Linked DNA regions of Homo sapiens. The protein of the gene in region 2 interacts with the protein of the main gene of each other region in a pairwise test. Each region holds a gene or a part of one and is shown on either strand. Other genes may lie near its edges.

Region 1 (4,396 bases), on a different chromosome or scaffold from region 2:
CCTTAATTACTATAGCTTAATAATAAGCTTTTATATCTGGTAGACACCACCAACCTGGGACCACTGTAAATCAATTTCTTGGTTTTGGATTTTGTAATTTTTACTCCAGACCTGTATGAGGACAGGTGTGTGGTTGCCAATCCTCACTGAACACTATAGTCATTATAATTGTTTTCTTCCTGGAGCTGTATGTGAAGACAGTCATGTTTCCTGGCAACCTTCCTTTGCTGGCAGATGAATGTTTTCTATTCCATTAACAGGGACCCTTTAAGGATTCCTGCTTAATGGAGGCATTTTAAGTTCCCCCAAGACAGACTCTCATTCACTGAGCTGACGTTACTCTTTGCCTCTAGGTCTGCCCCGGCTCTTAAGTTCTCATGAGGAGTTGATTCAAATGTGCTGTACCTTTTTCAGGTGCGGCGGGGAGAGAAGTTTGTTCCTTGGGGATTTCTATCAAGGTTGATCATACACTAAAAGGTATGTTTATTAAAATGTATTCAGGATTTAGTTAGTTATGGTGAGAGGGCTAAGAACATCTGAACCACCATATTGCCAGAAGTAGAAATGTGCTTTGGTTTTTTTCAACAAAAAATAACAACGTGGCACCTTTTAAAAAATGTGGCACATTTTTAAAAACCATCATAGGGTGATAGTTAAGTTACAGTGTAACTTCTGTAACCAATAAATCATATTTTTTAAAGGCTATTTAACATCATGAAGAAATTTTCACAGCCGGTTTAAGATGAATATAAAAGTTGGTATGGTCCTAATATTATTTAAAATAGAAGAAGGAAAAACAGATTATTAAAAGAAGTTTGACAGTTGATGGCAGAGTAACAGAATACGTTAAAGTCTTATATTCCAAATTTTGTACAATAGGGAAAGTTGAGAGGGATATTGCTAAACTAGAAAGAAACTAGAAAGTATCCCCTTTGCAAAATGAGAAACCTAGAAAGCCAACCTAGGAAACTCATTGTTGTACTTATCAGCTAGAGGAAAAGGTAAAACAGTTGATTACTCTGAAATATGTGAAGAGATGATGTTATGTTCATCATACTGGGTGTCCATGCTGCACATGGAATTCAATGAGGTAAACTTGGCCTAACTCCAGCTGGTAGCAAGTACCATAGCTTGAGTTTGAACCCAGGTCCTCTCGAGCTGTTTCTACCTTGTGTCACTATCAATCACTCTGCCTTTTAATCCAGGAACATTAAATTTTTCATACCACTTTCATTCATTTTGGTTTACTATCAGGATACGGTACCTAGGGAAGAGCATGCTTGAGGTAGCTAAGAGGTAGAGTTATTGTACCAAGATGAGTTGTTTAATATGAAAGAGACTGGATACAACTGTTTCACAAAAAGATGTATTTTCATTCATGAGTATTTACATTTTTCATATTTGTTTAAAGAATATCATATAACTGATACCTTCTGAAATGTTTCATGCTTTTAAACTCTTCTATTTACACTTATCTGACATGGAATTAAAACTAAAATGGTCAAATACCATGATAATAGAAAGCAACCAGCCAACATAGCTAGGTCTTCTCTTAAATTTGCTGATCAACATTAGCAGTAGTTACCTTAATAATAAATTATTCATTTTAAAATCAGTAGTAACTTTAGACAATTCATAAATAAGTGTGCTCTGTGCAATTTACACGTTTAATATCCTGTGGATACTAAAAGCTTGTATATTGTCAGATTTGCACATTATTACTTTATCAAAAACAGTAAGCTTTCCCAAAGATGAAGCTGGGGAAACTTGAAAAGATATTCTAAAGGTTCTCTGGAGAGTTATCAAAGCTCTGCCTGCTTTACAGGAGGAGGTTCCAATTTACGCGAGAGGGCAGTTAAAATCTGGTTGAATTTCTCATATCTCTCTGTCTGATTGACTTGTGCACCTTTGCTGCCCCATAGCAATCGCATTTGAAATTCAGTCTTGCAGATTTCATTCATTTCTTCATCTGGTTGAAAACCTAATGAAACAAAATAAACAAAAAGTTACTTCAGTTCTGCCTAAGATGTGTTAAAAATAGACTGAAAGCACCAGGCGCGGTGGCTCACGCCTGTAATCCCAGCACTTTGGGAGGCCGAGGTGGGTGGATCACAAGATCAGGAGATCGAGACCATCCTGGCTAACACAGTGAAATCCCGTCTCTACTAAAAAAATACAAAAAATTAGCCAGGCGTGGTGGCGAGCGCCTGTAGTCCCAGCTACTCGGGAGGCTGAGGCAGGAGAATGGCGTGAACCCGGGAGGTGGAGCTTGCAGTGAGCGAGACTGCGCCACTGCACTGCAGCCTGGGTGACAAGCGAGACTCCATCTCAAAAAAAAAAAAAAAAAAAAAAATAGACTGAAAGCTTGCTTAAAGTAGCATCAAAATGAACATCTTCTCTCTCTCAGAACTTTAAAAAATGTCCCCAAAGAAAAATATAGGATCTGTTCTATATAAGGGAGAGCAGAGCCCCACCCTGCAGAACCTAAGCACCTTCAGAGAAGAAATAACAGGTAAACTCATTAAAAAACAATAGAGTGAAATTGGTTTGTACAAACCACTGTGGGAAGTAGTGCTGTGGGAAGGAGGGTTCATTGTACCTAGGAGTTCGTTACTTGTTTTTACCAACTTTACTGATGTATAGTTTACATGTCATATGATTCACCTGTTTTTGGCTGTGGAGTTTGATTTATGATGGTAAGTTTTTACATAAACCATTACCACCAGTCTTAGAACACTTCCATCACCTTAGTACCTCTTTGCAGTCAATTCCTGTTCCTACTGCAGACCTCAGTCAACCACTGATCTGCTTTCTGTTGCTACTGTTTTGCCTTTTCTAGAAATATGGGATAAATGGAATCATCCACTATGAACTTTTTAATGTGTGACTTCTTTCACTTAGCATGATGTTTTTGAGATTATTCCATATGTTGCATGCTAATCATTCTTACTGATCAATATTCAGTTTTATGGACATGCCATTGTTTTTGTTTATCCATTCACCAATTGATGACATTTGGATTGCTTCTGGCTGCTATGAGTAAGTGGTTGTGAACACTTGTGTACAAATCTTGTGTGGACATGTGTTTTCATTTCTCTAGGAAAGGAATTATTGGGTCATACAATCAGTATATGTTTACTTTTAAAGAAACTATTAAACTCTATTCCAAAATGGCTGTATCATTTTATATTCACAGCAGTAACATATGAAGACTCCAGTTTTTCCACATGCTGCCAACCCTTAGTTTTATCATTTTTTATTTTTATTTTTTTGAGAAGGAGTCTCGCTGTGTTGCCCAGGCTGGAGTGCAGTGGCACGATCCTGGCTCACCACAACCTCTACCTCTCGGGTTCAAGCAATTCTCCTGCCTCAGCCTCCCAAGTAGCTGGGACTACAGGTGTGTGCTACCACGCCTGGCTAATTTTTTGTATTTTCAGTAGAGACGGGGTTTTGCCATGTTGGCCAGGCTGGTCTCGAACTTTTGACCTCAGGTGATCCACCCGCCTCGACCTCCCAAAGTGCTGGGATTACAGACATTAGCCACCGTGCCTGGCCTATCATTCTTTTTAGTTGTAGCCATTCTAGATAGTGTGGTGGTATCTCATTGTGGTTGGTTTAAATTTACATTTCCCTAATGATGAATGCTTTGAACATCTTTTCATGTAGTTGTCATTTGTATGCCTTCTCTGATGTAGTGTCTATTCAAATTTTTGTCTATTTAAATTTTATCTTCTCACTGAGTTGTAAGAGTTCTTTGTATAGCCTAGATGTAAGTCCTTTATCAGATATATGTGTACTCAATGTTTTCTGCTGTGGTTCATGCTTTTTGTGTCCTAAGAATTTCTTTCTTTCTTTTTTTTTTTTTTTTTTTTTGAGATGGAGTTTTGCTTTTGTTGCCCAGGCTGAAGTGCAATGGTGCAACCTCTGCCTCCTGGGTTCAAGCAATTCTCCTGCCTCAGCCTCCCGAGTAGCTGAGATTACAGGCATGCGCCACCACGCCCGGCTAATTTTGTATTTTTAGTAGAGACGGGGTTTCTCCACGTTGGTCAGGCTGGTCTTGAACTCCCGACCTCAGGTGATCCGCCTGCCTCAGCCTCCCAAAATGCTGGGATTACAGGCGTGAGCCACCGTGCCTGGCCAAGAAGTCTTTACTTAGCTTAAGGGCACAAAGAATTTCTCCTATGTTTTCTTACAGAAGGTTATACTTTAGCTCTTACATTTTGGGTCTATGATCCATTTTGGATTATTGTGTATGGTATGAGGTAAGGATCGAGATTCACTTTTTTGCATATGGATATCCAATAGCAGATACCATTTGCAGGATTATACTTTATCCAGTGAATTATTTTGGCACCTTTGTTGAAAATCAACTGTCAGCCATATGTGTGGGCCTATT
Region 2 (5,097 bases):
TGTGAGCCACCATGCCCAGCCTTTTTTGCCTTTTAAATTTCATATTATTTGCATATTACCTACTAAATAAGTATTTTTAGAAATACACCTGGAAAATCCAAGCATTCAACGTAAGTATGGTAAACCATTTTGTTAAAAAAAAATTACCAGTTATTACAGATACAAAGAAGAAAAAGCTATAAAAAGGAGAACAAGATGAACAGGCACCTTAGAACAGCCACAAGTTATGCAAGAGAACCAAAATGACCAAAAAGCTCAGATGACAGCAAGGTGACTAAATAAATAATTCATCATTATAGTCCTTCTATTTTTCTTTTTTCTGTATAATCCTCTTAATACATTTTAACAAACAAAAATAAATAAAAAAGGTGAGGCATGATGCTGACATCTATAATCCCAGCACGTTGGGAGGCCAAGACAGGAGGATCATCTGAGCCCAGGAGTTCGAGACCAGCCTCAGCAACACAGCTAGACCCTGTTTCTACAAAAAAAAAAAAAAAAAAAAAAAAAAAAATCAGCCAGTCATGGTAGCATGCACCTGTGGTCCTAGCTACTCAGGAGGATTGATTGAGCCTGGGAGGTTGGGGCTGCAGTGGGCCTTGATTGGCCACCACACTCCAGCCTGGGCAACAGAGCCAAACCCTGTCTCTCAAAAAACAAGAACAACAACAACAAACATATATATATATCACACACACACACACATACACACACCTTAAGTCACTTATTTTCAGACATAAAACACTAAACGTTTATCTAGCCCAGGCTCCATGGCTCATGCCTGTAATCCCAGCACTTTGGGAGGCCAAAACGGGAGGATCACTTGAGCCCAGGAGTTTGAGACCAGCCTGGGCAATATGGCAAACACGGTCTCTACAAAAAATACAAAAAAAATTATTAGCCAGGCATGGTGGTGTGCACCTATAGTCCCAGTACTCAGGGGGCTGAAGTGGGAGGATCGCTTAAGCCCAGGAGGCAGAGGTTGCTGTGAGTTGAGATCATGCCACTGCACTCTAGCCTGGGTGAGAGAGTAAGACCCTGTCTCAAAAAAATAAATAAATAAATAAAAGTTTATCTAAATGTGTATTATCCTGTCTACCTCCAGAAAGGACTTATGAACAGAAATGTTCAATTTGAAAAGTCAAATAATGCTGTTCTACATAACACCACATTCAAATGATTACAACAGCTAAAACCTATGTCTATATTCTTGGTACAGCTCCTAGTAAATTCTACATATACTTCAAATCTTAAACCAAAGGACCCTTCCCTGATTCCATAAACTAGGATAGGTTCCCAATTACATTTCTCCTTTGTATTACTGTGCAGTTACTAGTTTGGCAAAGTCCATTTGCCTGGCTGATATGTAAGCTCCATGAACACAGCTGTATGTCCCTTTATCTGCTCAATCATCCTTGTTCACTAAGACAGTAAGGAGGTCAACAAGTATTTCTTGAATAAAGAAACCTAATAGAAGAAACTTCTTGTATTTTTTGTGACAGGGTCTCACTCTGTTGCCCAGGCCAGACTGCACTGGTCAGATCATGGCTCATTGCAACCTCTGCCTCCAGACTCAAGCAATCCTCCTACCTCAGCCTCCTGGGTAGCTGGGACTACAGTCATGCACCACCACACCCTGTTAATTTTTGTATTTTTAGTAGAGACAGGGTTTTGCCACGTTACCCAGGCTGGTCTCAAACTCCTGGCCTCAAACAATCCACCCGCCTCAGCCTCCCAAAGTGCTGGCTGGGATTACAGGCATGAGCCACTGCGCCCGGCCAGAAAACCAACAGAAGAAACTTCTACTTGTACATTTTGAATGAAAAATTTATTTTATCAAGAAAAAAAGCCTGTAAAATTACAGATTGTTTGTTTAATGTAGGAACACACTTTTATTTTTATAAGAAATGTAGAGATAATTTGTTGAATCAGATGTAAAAACATCAAATCAACAACTTTTTTTAAAAAACCTTAACGTCACAGGAAAGAGAACCTAAATAAAATTACGTTACGGGCCAAAGGGAAATTTTATAAATTCAGTTTCTGCTTTTCTGGGGAATTAATATTTTAGAGGGATATGTCTGCTTAAGGCAAAGCAATGTATCCTAGTCTCTTGATCTAATTATCAATATTCAGAAAATGGTCCACTTCTCAGCCAACAGTCTGTGGATTCCAGGGGGTCAAGACACTTTCATGGGGTCAATTAAGTCAGAACTACTTTCACAAGAATGCTCATCTATTATTTGCCTTTTTTCACTCTCATTCTCTCACAAGCGTACAGTGTTGTTTTGCAGAGGTCATGTGATACAGCAAGACTGAATGCAGAAAAAGACACGAGAATTCAGCAGGCTTCTATTAAGAGAGATCTTATAAAGATCTGGAAAAATGTAAAATAATCACTCCTTTCCCTGGTATTTTTTAGCAAATATAATTGGTTTTCATTAAAAATGTTATGTTACGATAATTGCATGAGGTAATGGATACTAACTACCCTTATTTGATCATTAGACCAACATATACATCTATCAAAACATCAAACTGTATCCCATAAATACATACAATTACAATGTGTCCATTTGTAATTTTAAAAATCTTTTTTTTTTTGAGATACAGTCTGTCACCCAGGCTTGGAGTAATCTCAGCTCACTGCAACCTCCGCTTCCCGGGTTCAAGTGATTCTTGTGCCTCAGCCTCCCAAGTAGCTGGGATTACAGATGTGCACCACCACGTCTGGCTAATTTTTAAATTTTTAGTACTGACATGGTTTTGCCATGTTGCCCAGGCTGGTCTCAAACTCCTGACCTCATGTGATCTGCCTGCCTCAGTCTCCCAAAGTGCTGGGATTACAGGCATGCACCACCATACCTGGCCTTAATTAAAAATTTTTAAAATATTATTTAACATGAATCGATTTAGTATTATAGTTTTAAAACAAATAATTATTAAATAAATTTTTAAGTGTTTTAATTTCCAATGTAGTAACTAGCGGTAGATATAACCCACATAAACAAAAGATTTAGAATCTTCAATTTTTAAGAGTAAAGAGATCCTCAAACCAGAAAGTAGGAGAAATTCCTGGTCTAGAATAAGAATTTCTTTGGAACAACCAATTTGATTTTTTCAAAGAATACATTTAAAATAAAAGACAGATGGCACCCATAGATGTAAAGGAACTTTATTTACATAGTAATCAATTGCAATAAATGAACTTTACTTGGATCCTGATTCAAACAAATGGCTTCTAAAAAAGTGAAATGATCACGGAAATAAATACTGGCTCAATATTTGATATCTTAAGAAATTAAGTTTTTTTAAGTGTTAAGAAAGACTATAACTATTGAAGCTGCAAGATGACTACATGGGAGTCACCATGTCAGTTTGACAACATTAATCCTTTTAAATATAAGAACTTAGAAGGTGCTAGCATTGTCTACTTACTTTTTCAATTCTAACTCTGAAAGAGAAACAAGTAACAGTATCAGACAATATAAAAGCCACTGAACTGTCAATTTAAAACAGACTCTCTTCATTTTTAGGATTTATATTGCTATATATTTTTAAAGCAAATGAAAAATGTTCTTTTGGCCGGGTGTGGTGGCTCGCGCTTGTAATCCCAGCACTTTGGGAGGCCAAGGTGGGCGGATCACGAGGTCAGGAGATCGAGACCATCCTGACTAACACGGTAAAACCCCCATCTCTACTAAAAATACAAAAAAATTAGCCAGGCATGGTGGCGGGCGCCTATAGTCCCAGCTACTTGGGAGGCTGAGACAGGAGAATGGCATGAACCCGGGAAGGTGGAGGTTGCAGTGAACCGAGATCGCGCCACTGCACTCCAGCCTGGGCAACAAAGCGAGACTCTGTCTCAAAAAAAATAAAAAAGAAAAATGTTCTTTCACTTCTCCATTTTTCTAAAACCAAATTAATAAGAACAGCCAAGAATATACAGTACTTATTTTAGCACATCTTACAAGTTTAAGCCGTATTAGTGAATACGAATGTTAATTCAACGAATATTTAAAAACTTTCATCAAACGCAGTATGCTGGGGAGCTAAAAATTGAAATAGGTAAACAACCTGAAGGAGCCCACTATCTACTTCACAACCAATATGTAACCCCCCAACCTATAATACAATATAAAATGGTAATTAGTTCCCTGAAAGATATCTAACATAGCTTATTGAAAAAGTGATGATTTCAACAAATGATTACAAATAGGAGGAAAATCTAAACCTTAAATAATGTATTATTTTAATTGTTGCCAACCCTAGAAAAAATAAGCCCAGCATGGTAGTGTGCACCTGTAGTCCCAGCTACTCGGGAGGCTGAGGCAGGAAGATCACCTGAGCCCAAGAGTTCAAGAGCAGCCTCGGCAACATAGTGAGACACTGTCTCATAAAAAAAAAAAAATTTAGGAAACAAAGTTAACAGGCATTCAAAGGCTGACCATTTCCAGGTTTGGCTCTTTGCATCCAAAGCTATGTATCACCTCAGCACTTTCACATATTCCCAGTGGCTGCAGGCCCAAGCCCCCCTACCCCCGCAACTTGTTCAAAGAGGTCTTTTATTAAACGTCACCTTGCAGAGATGATTTCCCTCTAACTAAAGATTTCCTCCTTCAAAGAACTAAACACGAAATTTATATTTAAAATTTTTTGTTTATTGGTTGCCCTTACCACAAGACTATAAATTCTGAGGGCAGGGATAAACTGTTTTCCCTTTGTTTTCTTTACCATTGTAATACACAATCAATAAATACAGGGTGAGTAAACATACTTTAAGGGGTTGAGGCACTTACAGTTTTGTTAAGACACCAATATAACATAAAAGAGGCTGGTACAAAGGATACAATCACTAGACTAGGGAAGGCAGTGACCTTCACCAACTACAAAGAATTTCCTCCTATCTATCTTGTTTTGTACAGCTCTTATAGAGATCTTTCAGCGAGTGTGTGTAGAAAAGAGCCCAAATGTTAGTGTTGGTTTCTAAGTTCAGGTATGTTCATGGTCAATATTTCTACAGAAATGAATATAAATTAATGATGTATATTAAGTTTTAAAATTTAGCCTAGTATTGACTGAGACATTTACAGTTTA

The links.
Region 1: the proteins of RPRD1A (region 2) and BCAR3 interact in a two-hybrid assay, tested with the Homo sapiens proteins (one large-scale study listed by BioGRID and IntAct).

Annotation. Positions count from the first base shown.
Region 1 is NC_000001.11:93,560,439-93,564,834, forward strand, and holds the end of BCAR3 (breast cancer anti-estrogen resistance protein 3), read right to left. Parts: intron 1,982-4,396; coding exon 1,803-1,981; 3' UTR 1,303-1,802; downstream 1-1,302. UniProt on the Homo sapiens protein: Acts as an adapter protein downstream of several growth factor receptors to promote cell proliferation, migration, and redistribution of actin fibers.
Region 2 is NC_000018.10:36,056,567-36,061,663, forward strand, and holds part of RPRD1A (regulation of nuclear pre-mRNA domain-containing protein 1A), read right to left. Parts: intron 1-5,097. UniProt on the Homo sapiens protein: Interacts with phosphorylated C-terminal heptapeptide repeat domain (CTD) of the largest RNA polymerase II subunit POLR2A, and participates in dephosphorylation of the CTD by RPAP2.